4 linked regions of the Homo sapiens genome follow. The protein of the gene in region 3 purifies or fractionates together with the protein of the main gene of each other region. This does not show direct contact. Each region holds a gene or a part of one and is shown on either strand. Other genes may lie near its edges.

Region 1 (3,500 bases), on a different chromosome or scaffold from region 3:
TCACTTAATTTTTGGCTTACCTCTACCAGATGTACTGAAATGTCACAATTTTTCAGCACAGATCCAAGTTGAGTGAACACCTAAATACCAAAAGAAGAAAAAAAAATACAATGTGTTAAGTAGGTTTTAAGTTTCCTAATCATTTACATCAATGATTTAGTCATGTCACAATAGAGGTAATATTTCAGAGAGATGTGTTCCTTACCCAAGCCACTCTCCAGCAGTCTATAAGAATCCTAACCTACTAGTTATTAAGCATAATCTAAATAAGAAATGAACAATGCACAATTTGGTTTCCTAATGATAAATTATGATTAACAAATGAAAATAAAAGATTTGGCATCTGATAAAAACAATGATTCAGATTATGGAGTCTAAAAAAAGACCAAGGAAATAAAATGTACACAGCCTTGATTTGATAACATCTCTAGGTCTAGGAAGTAATCTCATCTTTGAGATGATGAGAACTCTAACCTCAAAGAACCAAATCTGAATGGTACTGAAAACCTGACTGCTTAACTCGGGGGTCTGCCACATTTTCAATCTATATTTAGCTACACATTTTTTCACTGTTGTAAACATGCAAGGGAAAAAGGAAAATACTAATATTTTACCAATCTTTTAAGGCTAAAAAATCAATAGCAAAAGCATAAAGTGTATCAACATTATTTTTCATTTGAATTTAATTTCTACTGGTGATCTGCCTCCAATTAATACTTTTGAGATATGAATATGCACATCCAGACTGATAATATGAACAAGATGATTTTTCCAAATTTAGTTTTGAGATCGAAATACAAATGGAAAAACTTCCCAGGAGAAATTCCTTCAGAAGGTAACATCAAAAATAAAACAGGTCTGACACTTCTCTGGCTATTTGCTTTACAACCCTTTAAATTCTTTGGCTTTTAGGACTTCTTATGACTCAGTCTGGAAAAGCATCCTTCATACATTTTAAGGGCTCTGGAATCAACTTTTAAAGTACTTGAACAAGAGAATATGATTTGAGGTCCTTATTAAATATTTTATATTCAAATGACCTTGCTGAAAAACATAAAATAGAGCCCTGGAAATTTAAATTCGTGATTTTGTTTTCTTTCTTCACCCAAATAATCAAGATTCTTATTTGTCATATGTTTATATATTTTATATATTTTTTAAATCCTTTAATTTCTAATTTAAAGCAAAAACCATAAAGCATCAAGAAATTTAAATTTATATTGAGTATGTGTTGGTGTTTTTTGGTTTTTTTTTTGAGACAGGGTCTCACTTTGTTACTCAGAGGCATAATCACAGCTCACTGCAGCCTCAACCTCCTGGGCTCAAGCAATCCTCCCATCTCAGCCCCTCAACTAGCTTCGACCACAGACGCATGCTACCACGACTGGGTAATTTTTGTATTTTTTGTAGAGATGGAGTTTCACCGTATTGCCCAAGCTGATCTTGAACTTTGGGAGCCTCGAACTCCCAAAGTGCTGCGATTACAGGCATGGGCCACTGCGCCCAGCCATGTTTGTTTTTTACATTGAATTGTCAAGTACATATAAAATAAACTCAAAAACACTAATGAGTTCCAAAATACTAAAAACTACAAAAGTTTAATAAATACTATTACTTATCAGGTACTATAAACAACTGTCCTCCTTTTTAATGTTTTCATAAAATAGTACGTAGACTGATAGAAACAATGATACAAGAGAGAATATCTACCATAAATGGGACATGACCTTATCTCCAAAGCCCCTGTGGACTCCCTCTACCCTTGGAAGTCACCACCATTCTGAATCTTGAGTTAATAACACCCTGACTTTTCTTTATAAATGTTACTAAATATATTTTTATCACCAAATACATATTGTTTAATGTTGACTATTTTTTGGATTTTATATAAATACAATCATATGATACGAACTCTTGCAAACTGCTACTTTCACACATCTTGTTTCATGTTGAACACTGTTATATTCCACTGTGATTTCACGCATTCTTGCAGTACTTCGTATTCCACTGTATGACTATACCACAATTAACTGATTCATTTACCCCCCGATGGGCATTTGTGCTGTTATTTTCCGCTATTTTATACAATGCTGCTATCTTCTTGTATGTGTCTCCTGGTACACATATACACTAGTTTCTCTAGGGTATATCACTAGCAGTAAAATTGCTGGGTCATACAATATAAGAAACTTTGATGTTAATAGATAATGGCCAATAGCTTTTCAAAAAGGTTGTACAAGGCTGGGTACGGGGGCTCATGCCTGTAATCCCAGCACTCTGGGAGGCCGAGGCAGGCGGACCACTTCAAGCCAAGAGTTCAAGATCAGCCTGGCCAGCATGGTAAAACCCCTTCTCTACTAAAAATAAAAAAATTAGCCGGGTGTAGTGATCCACGCCTATTATCCCTGCTACTCAAGAGGCTGAGGGACAAGAATCGCCTGAACCTGGGAGGCAGAGGTTGCAGTGAGCCAAGATCGTACCACTGCACTCCAGCCTGAGTGACAAAGTGAGACTGTGTCTCAAAAAAAAAAAAAAAAAAGAGAAAGAAAAAAGGATGTACTAAATTATAGTTTTACAAGCAGTATATGAGAGTTGCCATTGATCCACAAATCCACATCTTCACCAATACTTGGTGTTGACAGACTTTTAGCTTTTTTTTCTAATCTGGCAAGGGTTACAGTAGTATCTCATTGTGATTTTAATTTTCATCTTCCTGACTACCAATGTGACTAATCTTTTTTTTTTTTTTTTTGCTTTTTTAGCCGTTTGTATTTTCCTCTTTTATGAATGGACTTGTTCACATCTTTGGCCTGATTTTTCTCAAGTTATCTGTCTTCTTACTGACCTAAAGGAGTTATTTAAATAATTCTAACTACTAGTTCTCTGTTGGTTACGTGTTACAAATAACTTCTCCCACTCTGTGGCTTGTCTAATCACTCTCTTAATGGGGTCTCTGAAGAACAAAAAGCTGCTAGTTTATTTGTAGAGCAAGAAGTTTTTAATTTTAATGTAAGAAATGAAATATTAATCTTTTGCTTTATGCCTTCTGCTTTTTTTTTTTTTAATATAAAAAGAGACGAGGTCTTGCTTTGTTGGCCAGGTTGGTCTTGAACTCTTGGCCTCAAGCAATCCTCCCACCTTGGCCCCCCAAAGTGCTACGATTACAGGCATGAGCCACTTTGCCCAGCCTAAACTTTTTTTTTTTTTTGAGACGGAGTCTCGCTCTGTCACCAGGCTGGAGTGCAATGGCGCAATCTCAGCTCTGCAATCAATCACTGCAGCAATCACTGCAACCTCTGCCTCCTGGGTTCAAGCGATTCCCTGCCTCAGCCTCCTGAGTAGCTGGATTACAGATGCACACCACCATGCCCAGCTAATTTTTGTATTTTTACTAGAGACGGGGTTTCACTATGTTGGTCAGGCTGGTCTCGAACTCCTGACCTTGTGATCTGCCCACCTTGGCCTCTCAAAGTGCTAGGATTGAGCCACCATGCCTGGCC
Region 2 (3,500 bases), on a different chromosome or scaffold from region 3:
TGTATGTGCTTGCATTACGAAAGAAGATCTCAAATCAATAGCCCAATCTTCCACTTTGAGACACCAGAAAAAGAGCATAATTAAACCCAAAGCAAGCAGAAGGAATGAAATGTTAGAACAGAAATAAGAATCGAAAAATAGGAAAAAACAGCAAAACAAAAAGTTGATGTTTTGAAAAGATCAACAAAATGGACAAACTTCTAGCTAGAGTGACAGAGAAAATGAGAGGACTCAAAGTGCTAAAATCAGGAATGAAAGACAGGAGATCATGCCTACCCCACAGAAATAAAAGGGATTCTGAGGGAACTCCGAACACGTGTATGCCAACAGACTAGACACGAAATGGACAAATTCCTAGAAACACACAAATTACTGAAACAGAATGAAGACATGACAAATCTTAATAGAACTAAAACAAAAAAGAGATGGAATTCGTAATTGAAAAATTGTCCACAATCCCAGGTCCAGATGGCTTCCCTGATGAATTTTACCAAACAGTCAAAGAACTAATACCCATTTTTCCCAAACTCTTCCAAAAAATATGAATAGGAAATACTTGCCAATTCACTCTAGGAGGCCAGCATTACCCTGATGCCAAAAGCAGAAAAAGATATTATAAGAAAACTACAGACCAATATTTCTTACAAATATAGATACAAAAAAATCCTCAACAAAATACTAGTAAATCAAATCCAACAACATAGGAAAGAGATTACACACCATGATCAATGGGATTTATCCCAGGAATATGAGGTTGGTTTAACATTCAAAAATCAATTGATGTAATGCAACATATTAAGAGAACAAAGGACAAAAACCATCTGATCCTCCAACAGATACAGAAAAGTATTTGACAAAATTCACCCGTTCATGATAAAAACGCACAACAAACTAGGACTATAAGGGAGCTTCCCTCAGCTGATGAAAGACACCTATAAAAATCACATTGCAAACATTATACTTCATGATGAAAGATCAGGAACAAGACAGGGGGGTCCATTCTTGCCACTCTATTCAACATTGCACTGGAGGCTCTAGCCAGGGCAATTAGGCAGGAAAAGAAAAATAAAAGGCATCCAGATCAGAAAAGAAGAAATAAAAACATCCCTATTTGCCAAAACAGTATCTTGTATATAGGAAATCCTAAGGAATCCACTAAAAAAAAAAAAGAAAAAAAAGAAAAAAAACTGTTAGAACTAATAAAATAGTTCAACGAGGTTGCAGGATACAAGGTCAATATATAAAAACACACAAAAAACTATTGTATTTCTATATTAGCAATGAACAGTCTCAAAAGGAAGTTTTAAAAAATTATATTTGTAATATCATCAAGATAATAAAATGCTTAGGAATAAATTTAATTAAAAAGTCCCAAACTTATATCCTAAAATCTAGATTTTTTGAAAGAAATGAGAGAAGACCTAAATAAGTGGAAAGACAGCCCATGTTCATGAAACAAAAGACTTACTATTGTTGAAATGACAAGATACCCCAAATTGATCTACAGACCTAACACAGTCCCTATCAAAATTCTCAGCTGGTTTCTTTGCAGAAATTGACTAGCCAATCCTAAAATTCATATGGAGATTCAAAGGGGCCAATAATACTCAAAACAATATTGAAAAGGAAAAACAAAATTGCAGAATTCACATTTCTTGATTCCAAACTTGCTATTAAAATACAAAGCCACATAATCAAGACAGTGAGGTACTAAATAAGAATAGACCTATAGATCAACGGAATAGAATTGAGAGTCCAGAAATAAGCCCTCATCTTTACAGTCAATTGATTTTCAACAAGGGTGCCAAGACAATTCCAAGGGTAGAGCAATCTTTTCAACAACTGGTGCTGGGCCAACTGGGTAGCCACATGCAAAAGAACGTGGCTGGACCCGACCTCACGCCATGCAAAAAAAATTAATTTTCATGGATCCTAGACCTAAGTGTAAAAGCGAAGATATAAAACTCTTAGAAGAAAACATAAATGTTTTTTACCTTCGGTTAGGTTCTTAGACATGACACCAAAAACACAAGCAACAAAACAAAAACATAGAGATGAATTGGACAGCATCAACATTTTAAAAGCTGCAAACAATGCCATCAAGGAAGAGAGATGACAACCACAGGATGGGGAGAGTGTGTGCACATTACAGATCTGATAAGAGACTTGTAACTAAACTATAAAAAAATTTGCAACTCAATAATAAAAAGACAGTCGGCTGCGGTGGCTCATGCCTGTAATCCCAGCACTTTGGGAGGCTGAGGCGGGTGGATCACCTGAGGTCAGGAGTTCGAGACCAGCCTGACCAACATGGAGAAACCCCATCTCTACTAAAAATACAAAATTAGCTGGGCGTGGTGGTGCATGCCTGTAATCCCAGCTACTCAGGAGGCTGAGGCAGGATAATTACTTGGGAGGCTGAGGCAGGCAGATCACCTGAGGTCTGGAGTTTGAGACCAGCCTAGCCAACATGGAGAAACCCCATCTCTACTACAAATACAAAATTAGCTGGGCGTGGTGGTGTGCACCTGTAATCCCAGCTACTGAGGAGGCTGAGGCAGGAGCATTGCTTGAACCCAGGAGGCGGAGGTTGCAGTGAGCCGAGATCACACCATTGCACTCCAGCCTGGGCAACAAGAGCGAAACCCTGTCTCAAATAATAATAATAATAATAATAAGACAAATAACCCAATTTTAAAAGGGACAAAGGATCTGAACAGACATCTCTCCACAGAATATATGCAAGTGGACAACAGGCCCATGAAAATGTGCTCAACATCATTAGTTGTTCCAGGAATGCAAATCAAAACCACACTGAAATGCCATTTCACAACCACCAGGATGTCTAGAATCAAAAAGTCAGATAATAATAAGTGTTGGCGAGGATGTGGAGACACTGGAACCCTCTCGCACTGTGGTGGGGAATGTAATGTGGTACAGTTACTTTGGAGAACAGTTGGCGTTCCCCCAAAATGTTAAACAGAGATACCACTTGACCCAGGCCTCGTTATATACCCATAAGAAATTATAACATACATGCATACGACACCTGGTACGTGGATGTTCACAGCAGCACTGCTCATAAGAACTCAAAAGTGAAAACAATTCCAATGTCCACCAACGGATCAATGGATGAGTAAAATATGATGGGTCCATACAATGGAATATGATTGGGATAAAAAGGAATGAAGTGGCCTGGCATGGTGGCTCATGCCTGTAATCCCAGCACTTTGGGAGGCCAAGGCAGGTGGATCACCTGAGGTCAGGAGTTCAAGACCAGCCTGGTCAACATGGTGAAATCCCGTCTCTATTAAAAATACAAAAATTAGTTGGTCATGTTGGCCTGTGCCTGTAATCCCAGCTACTTGGGAGGCTGAGGCAGAAGAATCGCTTGAACCTGAGAGGCAGAAGTTGCAGTGAGCCGAATTGCACCCCTGCACTCCAGCCTGGGGCAACAGAGCAAGACCCCATCTCAAAAAATAAATAAATAAATAAAAATT
Region 3 (3,660 bases):
CACATGCCACCACACCTGGCTAATTTTTTTTTGCATATTTTGTAGAGACAGGGTTTTGCCATGTTGCCCAGGCTGGTCTTGAAATCCTGGGCTCAAGTGATCCACCCACCTCAGCCTCCCAAAGTGCTGGGATTACAGGTATGAGCCACTGAGCCCAGCCACCATCTCTACAAATTTTTTTTTTTTTTTGAGACGGAGTCTTGCTCGGTTGCCTAGGCAGTGGGTGTGATCTTGGCTCACTGCAACCTCCACCTCCCAGGTTCACTGCCTCAGCCTCCTGAGTAGCTGGAACTACAGGCGCGTACCACCACACCCAACTAATTTTTGTACTTTTTGTAGAGACGGGGTTTCACCATGTTGGCCAGGCTAGTCTCGAATTCCTGTCCTCGTGATCCGCCCACCTTGGCCTCCCAAAGTGCTGGGATTACAGGCACAACTCAGCAGTAAGCAAGATCCGTAATAAACATTTACTTTCTTAGCAAATCCTCAAAACCATAACATGAGGTAGGAACTTTTATTATCACAAGTCCAGAGAGGTAAAGTTACTTGCCCAATGCCACACAGCAAGCAAGTGGCCTGTCCAGGATGTGATCTTAGGTTTGTCTGACTGCAGAGCCCCCACCCTCACTTTCCAGTGTGTGTGAGGGGGTCAGGAACAGAGGGAGGACTATTGTAAGCGGAGCCCCAGGCACTGTAGGGTCCTGGAGAAATAAGGGGGCAGTGGTGCCAGGAGCTCAACAGGGGTGTCCCTGGCCCTGGTGCCTGGGAGAAGGAGCCGATGTAGGTGGAGGTGCAAGGGCAGCTGGGCAGCCTGGGAGGGGGTCAGGTGGAGGCGTCTGAGGAGGGCTTCATCCAGGACCTGGAGCGGGAGAGGTACGTTGTGTTCAGCCCCACATTTTCCAAGCAGCTGAGTACCCAGCTCTAAGGGAAATGGGAGTAAGGCGGGCGCTTCCTCCATTCCCCACTGTTCTGCAACTGTTAATCATTTCCTCTTTGCACACAGATGTGCACATTCACACAGGCACTCACACTGCAGCAGAGACTGGCTAGGGGGTCACCCAATCAGTTTCCTCCTAGGCACACACCTCAACTCCATTTCCCAGCCCTCTCACAGCTTGGTGAGACGTGAGTGAGCTCTAGCTGAGTGAATGTGGGTGGCAGTATGTATGCCACTTCCACACCTGGCCCAGAAAAACCTTATCCACTTGAACCTACACTGTCTCCCCTCATCTGGCTGGGTATCAACAGCCTGGGTCCCTGAGTACTTAGTGCTTGAAGCAGAGCCCACTCCCATTATTTGACCTTAACATGAGGGCACAGTTCTTGTGTGAAGACTCTGGTAGTCTGGGCTTAGTGTGTTAGAGCAGGTAGAGGCATCTGGTGTCCTAATACACGCATGCCTTTGACCCTTTGTACCAGACTCAAAGAATGGCAGACTTAAGAGGGCTTTAGAAATTAGCCACATCAACTCCCTTATTGAACACATGGACAGAATGAAGCCCAAGAGAGTGAGTGTTACTTGCCCAAGGCCACACACCAAGATGTGGGTACGGATACAGCCTTGGGAGCCAAAAGGGCTGCCTCCCAGTAGTCCCAAGCTGCACAGATAAGGTCTGGAGATGCTGCCCATGCTCACCTCTCCCTCCACCCCTCAGAAAGCAGCAGGCAGGTGGGCTGGAGTACCTGTCTTTGGGGCTTGTTGTTCTCAGCTGGCAGCAGAAATCGCTGGCCCAGGACAGTGCCCACACGGGCAGAGTACATGTGGTCCCCAAGCACAGGGCAGAGCTGTAGTACCATGTGCACCTGTAGTTGACTGGAGAACACTGGGCAACAGGAAAGCCAGGAGAGACAGTGGGCAGCTACTCGTTCTGTGCCACCCAGTATCACTCCTCCCCTTTTCCTTTGGGGAAACACCACCCCCTTTCTCAGATCATATGTTTCAGTGAGGTCAGTACTATGGCCCCTGCATCCAGAGAGGGACACATAACACGTCAGGACGATCACAGCTATCAATCTGCCTGGCTGTGGGATCCACTCATGATGAGATGCAACCCTGATTTAATTGCTGAAGCCACCGGGCCTAAGGACTGTTCTTTCCTGTTGGGGTGCTAGCCTGAAGCTGCCTCCTCTAGCTGGGCCTGGTCACATACACCTCTGGGGGCCATCAAATGCTCCCCAGGCTGCTGCTGATACCACTGTCTCCCCAGCTCCTTGCCTCCCTAAGCCAAGTGCAGTTTTTTTTTTTTTTAGCCAGCGTTTCACTCTGTCTCCCAGGCTGGAGTGCAATGGTGTGATCTTCGCTCACTGCAACCTCTGTCTCCCAGGTTCAAGCGATTCTCCCGCCTCAGCCTCCCAAGTAGCTAGGATTACAGGTGCGTGCCACCAACTCCAGCTAATTTTTGTATTTTTAGTAGAGACAGGGTTTCACCATGTTAGCCTGGCTGGTTTCGAACTCCTGACCTCAAGTGATCCATCCGCCTTGGCCTCCCAAAGTGCTGGGATTACAGGCGTGAGCCACCGCGCCTGGCTCAAGTGCAGTTTTTTTTTTTTTTAGATGAAGTCTCCTCTATCACCTAGACTGGAGTGCAGTGGCATGATCTTGGCTCATTGCAACTTCTGCCTCCCAGGTTCAAGCGATTCTCCTGCCTCAGCCTCCCGAGTAGCTGGTTTTACAGGCGCCTGCCACCGTGCCCAGCTAATTTTTGTAGTTTTTAGTTGAAACAGGGTTTCACCATCTTGGCCAGACTGGTCTTGAACTCCTGACCTCGTGATCCACCTGCCTCAGCCTCCCAAATCAAGTGCAGTTTTAAAGGCTGGCTAGGGTGCCAGACCTACCTGTCAGTGGCTGCAGCTGGACCAGGGCACAGCCAGAGCCTGTGGCTACCACACGAAAGTGACTGAGAGTCTTCTTGACACCTTCCAGGATGTCCTTTCGGGATGGGGCCTTCACTGGAACTGTCTGTGGTGCCAGCCAAGAGTGAACAAGCCTTACACAGGTCTGGGAGCTATACCCAGACCCTCCCTGCTCCCAATAGACTCCGGGCAGGGCCACAGTATAGGCAGTGGTCACTTGCCTGTTTTAGGGGACAGGAGAGCCAGCCATCCCAAATCCATACCCCTGACTCCTCTCTGTAGGGGTACTATATCTAGAAGCACCCCTCCTCTTCCCAGACCCGGACTCACGAGATTGACCCCATCAATGTGTTCCAGTTTCAGGGCAGCCTGGATCTTCCCCTCAGAAGCAGCTGGGATCCCATCAGTGACAGCACTGAGAAAGGGGCAGGAGGAGGTCACAGGGTGGCTTGCTGGGACCTCCCCACCACTCTAGGAACCTCCCAGCACCTCTCACCAGTAGGTGGCTGTGGGCCTTTGGGCTCTCCGTGCATGGGTGAAGTACTTCTGGAGGCGACTAGCTGTCTGGGGACAGCTGGAGAGGAGTACAAGCCCAGAGCTTTCTCTGGAATAAGCAGACAAATCACACAAGTTAAAGTCCCTTGAACTCGCCCACTAAAAAGGAAACTCTTAGGAACACTGACCTGCTTCAGGCCAAACACTAACACCAGGACTATAACCTAGACCAACTCCTGAGAAACAAGTAAGGTTTCCCCTTCTTTGATAACAAGACTATGTAGCTTAATGTGTTTCTCATTTTGCCCCGGC
Region 4 (2,363 bases), on a different chromosome or scaffold from region 3:
TTGTGTATAGATCAAAGCACACACCCTCTCTCATATAATTGGATATTTCCAAGAATTGAAAACCCATGTGAAGCATTATAGATAGTTTTAAATTTAACCCACTGGAGTTTTCTTGAAATACCACTTCTTTTATATTATATAAAACTAAAAACACGACTGTTACCTTTTGTGTGAACCAAAGGATACTTCAGATCTCAGAGCTGCCAATTATGGGGTACTAAAGGTTTTTAAGACATCCAGTTCTCCCGAATTTGGGATTGCCTCTTTTTCTTGAAATCTCTGGAGTAGTAATTTTTTTCCCCCTTTTTTGAAGGCAGTACCTTAACTTCATATGCCTCTGACTGCCATAAGCTTTTTTGATTCTGGGATAACATAACTCCAGAAAAGACAATGAATGTGTAATTTGGGCCGATATTTCACTGTTTTAAATTCTGTGTTTAATTGTAAAATTAGATGCCTATTAAGAGAAATGAAGGGGAGGATCATCTTAGTGGCTTGTTTTCAGTAGTATTTTAATATCAGCTTCTTGTAACCTTTTCCATGTTGTGAGGGTTGTAAGGGATTGTGTGGCAACAGCAGCTTCCCTTGGCTAACTCAATCTTCTACCCATTGCTTAGAGCAGGGAGCCCTCCTTATTTACTACTGAAGACCTTAGAGAACTCCAATTGTTTGGCATATATTTTTGGTGGTGGTTTTTATTCCTCCTGGAGAGTTATCTAATTTGTTTCTAAAACAAACAAGCAGCAAAGAAATGAATTAAATACTGGGGTTGAGAATTAAAATTAAGTGGATGTTCACAGTTGCCCAATATATATGACCTGCAAATGATACGAAAAAGTGCAGCATTTAGTGGCAGTTAACAAGAGTGACAAGCCTGGGGCAGAGGTACCAAACCTCTCCCACCAGAGAGCTAGAAGTATTTTATACAGTAACTTTGATCTTATGGAAGTGACCTTCAATGCTTATTCTGAAGTAACCTATATGGTGGATACAGGATGAACATTCAGTGCCAGGGAGAATCTTCTCAGGTTGGTTCTCGTTAGAGTGATAAACTGGCTAGGGGCCATAGTATTGGTCCTGTTAGGTTTCGGTCATGGAAAAAAAAATTATTTTGGGGTCATCCTGGCTCTAGATGTTATGGGCAAATTTCTGAAACATCTGCAAGAAGGTACCAGTTAATTATAGTGCTTAATATTGGGAATAAGATTAAGCATTATAATTATAATGTATGGGCCTGTTGGTGTAAGCTCAGATAATTAAATAAAAATAGCATGACTCAAATGAGACATATTCTGCTGAACAGTTTCTACTTCCTCTCCCGCCTGTCCTGTCATGGGAGACGTGTATAGTTGCTGCTGTTTCAGCAAACCACCATAAGACGAAAATGCCTCAGGTTGGGTTGCCAGTCCTTTACAACTCAGCTTGAATTTCACAACAGTGATTGTGAGAATCTGCGTGGTATACACTGAAATATCGGTGTGCTGTGATGCAAAGCTTACCTTTGACGATATTGAATGTGATATAGCTGTAGAGAAGTACTTCCTTGCCTTATGTGAGGATTTCAAACTTATTTAAATTATGTAGACAAATCAAAGTGGCATTGCTTAATTTTTAGCAGGCATAATAAGCAAGTTAACAGTAAAATGCAAAACATGATAAGCGTTGCTCAATTTTTAGCAGGTATAATAAGCAGGTTAACAGTAAAAATGCAAAACATGATAGATAAGTCACTTTGAAAATTCAAACCAAAGTTCCTTCACCTTATGGAAATAGGAAATTATGGACTTCAAAATTGGACACTTCCTGTTTACAAAAAGAAATTCAGAGCTAAAATCATGGTAAAAAAAAATAGAAACACTTGAGAACTATGGTCTTTATGGGTGCAATTTGAAATCCTTTTCATCATCTTACCAGACTAAACTAAGAGCACATACCAAACCTATCTTATGGTTGAAAGTTGGGGTTTATTTTTTATATGAGAATATTATCACTATTACATAACATACTCAGGACAAAGAACTTTGCTCAGGGAACATACCATGTAATATTTTTGTTGTTTCTTTACAGACTAGTCTACAGTCCTGCTTACTCAAAACAAACCAAATAACTTATACCTTTATATAAGTATTATGTACTGATGATAGTAACTACCTCTGAGTTTGACACAGATCAAAATTTTTGAATATCAGATATCAGTTATCCTATTTTTATTTCATGTGAAAACTCCTCTAAAGCAGATTCCCTCAACTCTGTGCATATGTGAATATCACTGATGTGAACACATTGTTCATTTACATAGGTAAAATATTACTCTGTTTACAGCAAAAGGCTACCTCATAGTTGATACATAGCACACCTGTATG

Evidence for each region. The genes of interacting proteins can lie anywhere in the genome.
Region 1: the proteins of RPUSD3 (region 3) and NDUFAF7 purify together in Homo sapiens (affinity purification with mass spectrometry; 2 studies listed by BioGRID and IntAct, with this or other methods). This does not show direct contact.
Region 2: the proteins of RPUSD3 (region 3) and SARDH purify together in Homo sapiens (affinity purification with mass spectrometry; one large-scale study listed by BioGRID and IntAct). This does not show direct contact.
Region 4: the proteins of RPUSD3 (region 3) and LIN28B purify together in Homo sapiens (co-immunoprecipitation; one large-scale study listed by IntAct). This does not show direct contact.

What each region holds. Positions count from the first base shown.
Region 1 is NC_000002.12:37,238,158-37,241,657, reverse strand, and holds part of NDUFAF7 (protein arginine methyltransferase NDUFAF7, mitochondrial), read right to left. Parts: intron 81-3,500; coding exon 1-80. UniProt on the Homo sapiens protein: Arginine methyltransferase involved in the assembly or stability of mitochondrial NADH:ubiquinone oxidoreductase complex (complex I).
Region 2 is NC_000009.12:133,696,853-133,700,352, forward strand, and holds part of SARDH (sarcosine dehydrogenase, mitochondrial precursor), read right to left. Parts: intron 1-3,500. UniProt on the Homo sapiens protein: Catalyzes the last step of the oxidative degradation of choline to glycine. Converts sarcosine into glycine.
Region 3 is NC_000003.12:9,837,349-9,841,008, forward strand, and holds the end of RPUSD3 (mitochondrial mRNA pseudouridine synthase RPUSD3), read right to left. Parts: intron 3,458-3,660; coding exon 3,350-3,457; intron 3,269-3,349; coding exon 3,184-3,268; intron 2,988-3,183; coding exon of another isoform or gene 2,960-2,987; coding exon 2,836-2,959; intron 1,824-2,835; coding exon 1,684-1,823; intron 860-1,683; coding exon 668-859; 3' UTR 501-667; downstream 1-500. UniProt on the Homo sapiens protein: Catalyzes uridine to pseudouridine isomerization (pseudouridylation) of specific mitochondrial mRNAs (mt-mRNAs), a post-transcriptional modification necessary for their translation.
Region 4 is NC_000006.12:105,079,107-105,081,469, forward strand, and holds part of LIN28B (protein lin-28 homolog B), read left to right. Parts: 3' UTR 1-2,363. UniProt on the Homo sapiens protein: Suppressor of microRNA (miRNA) biogenesis, including that of let-7 and possibly of miR107, miR-143 and miR-200c.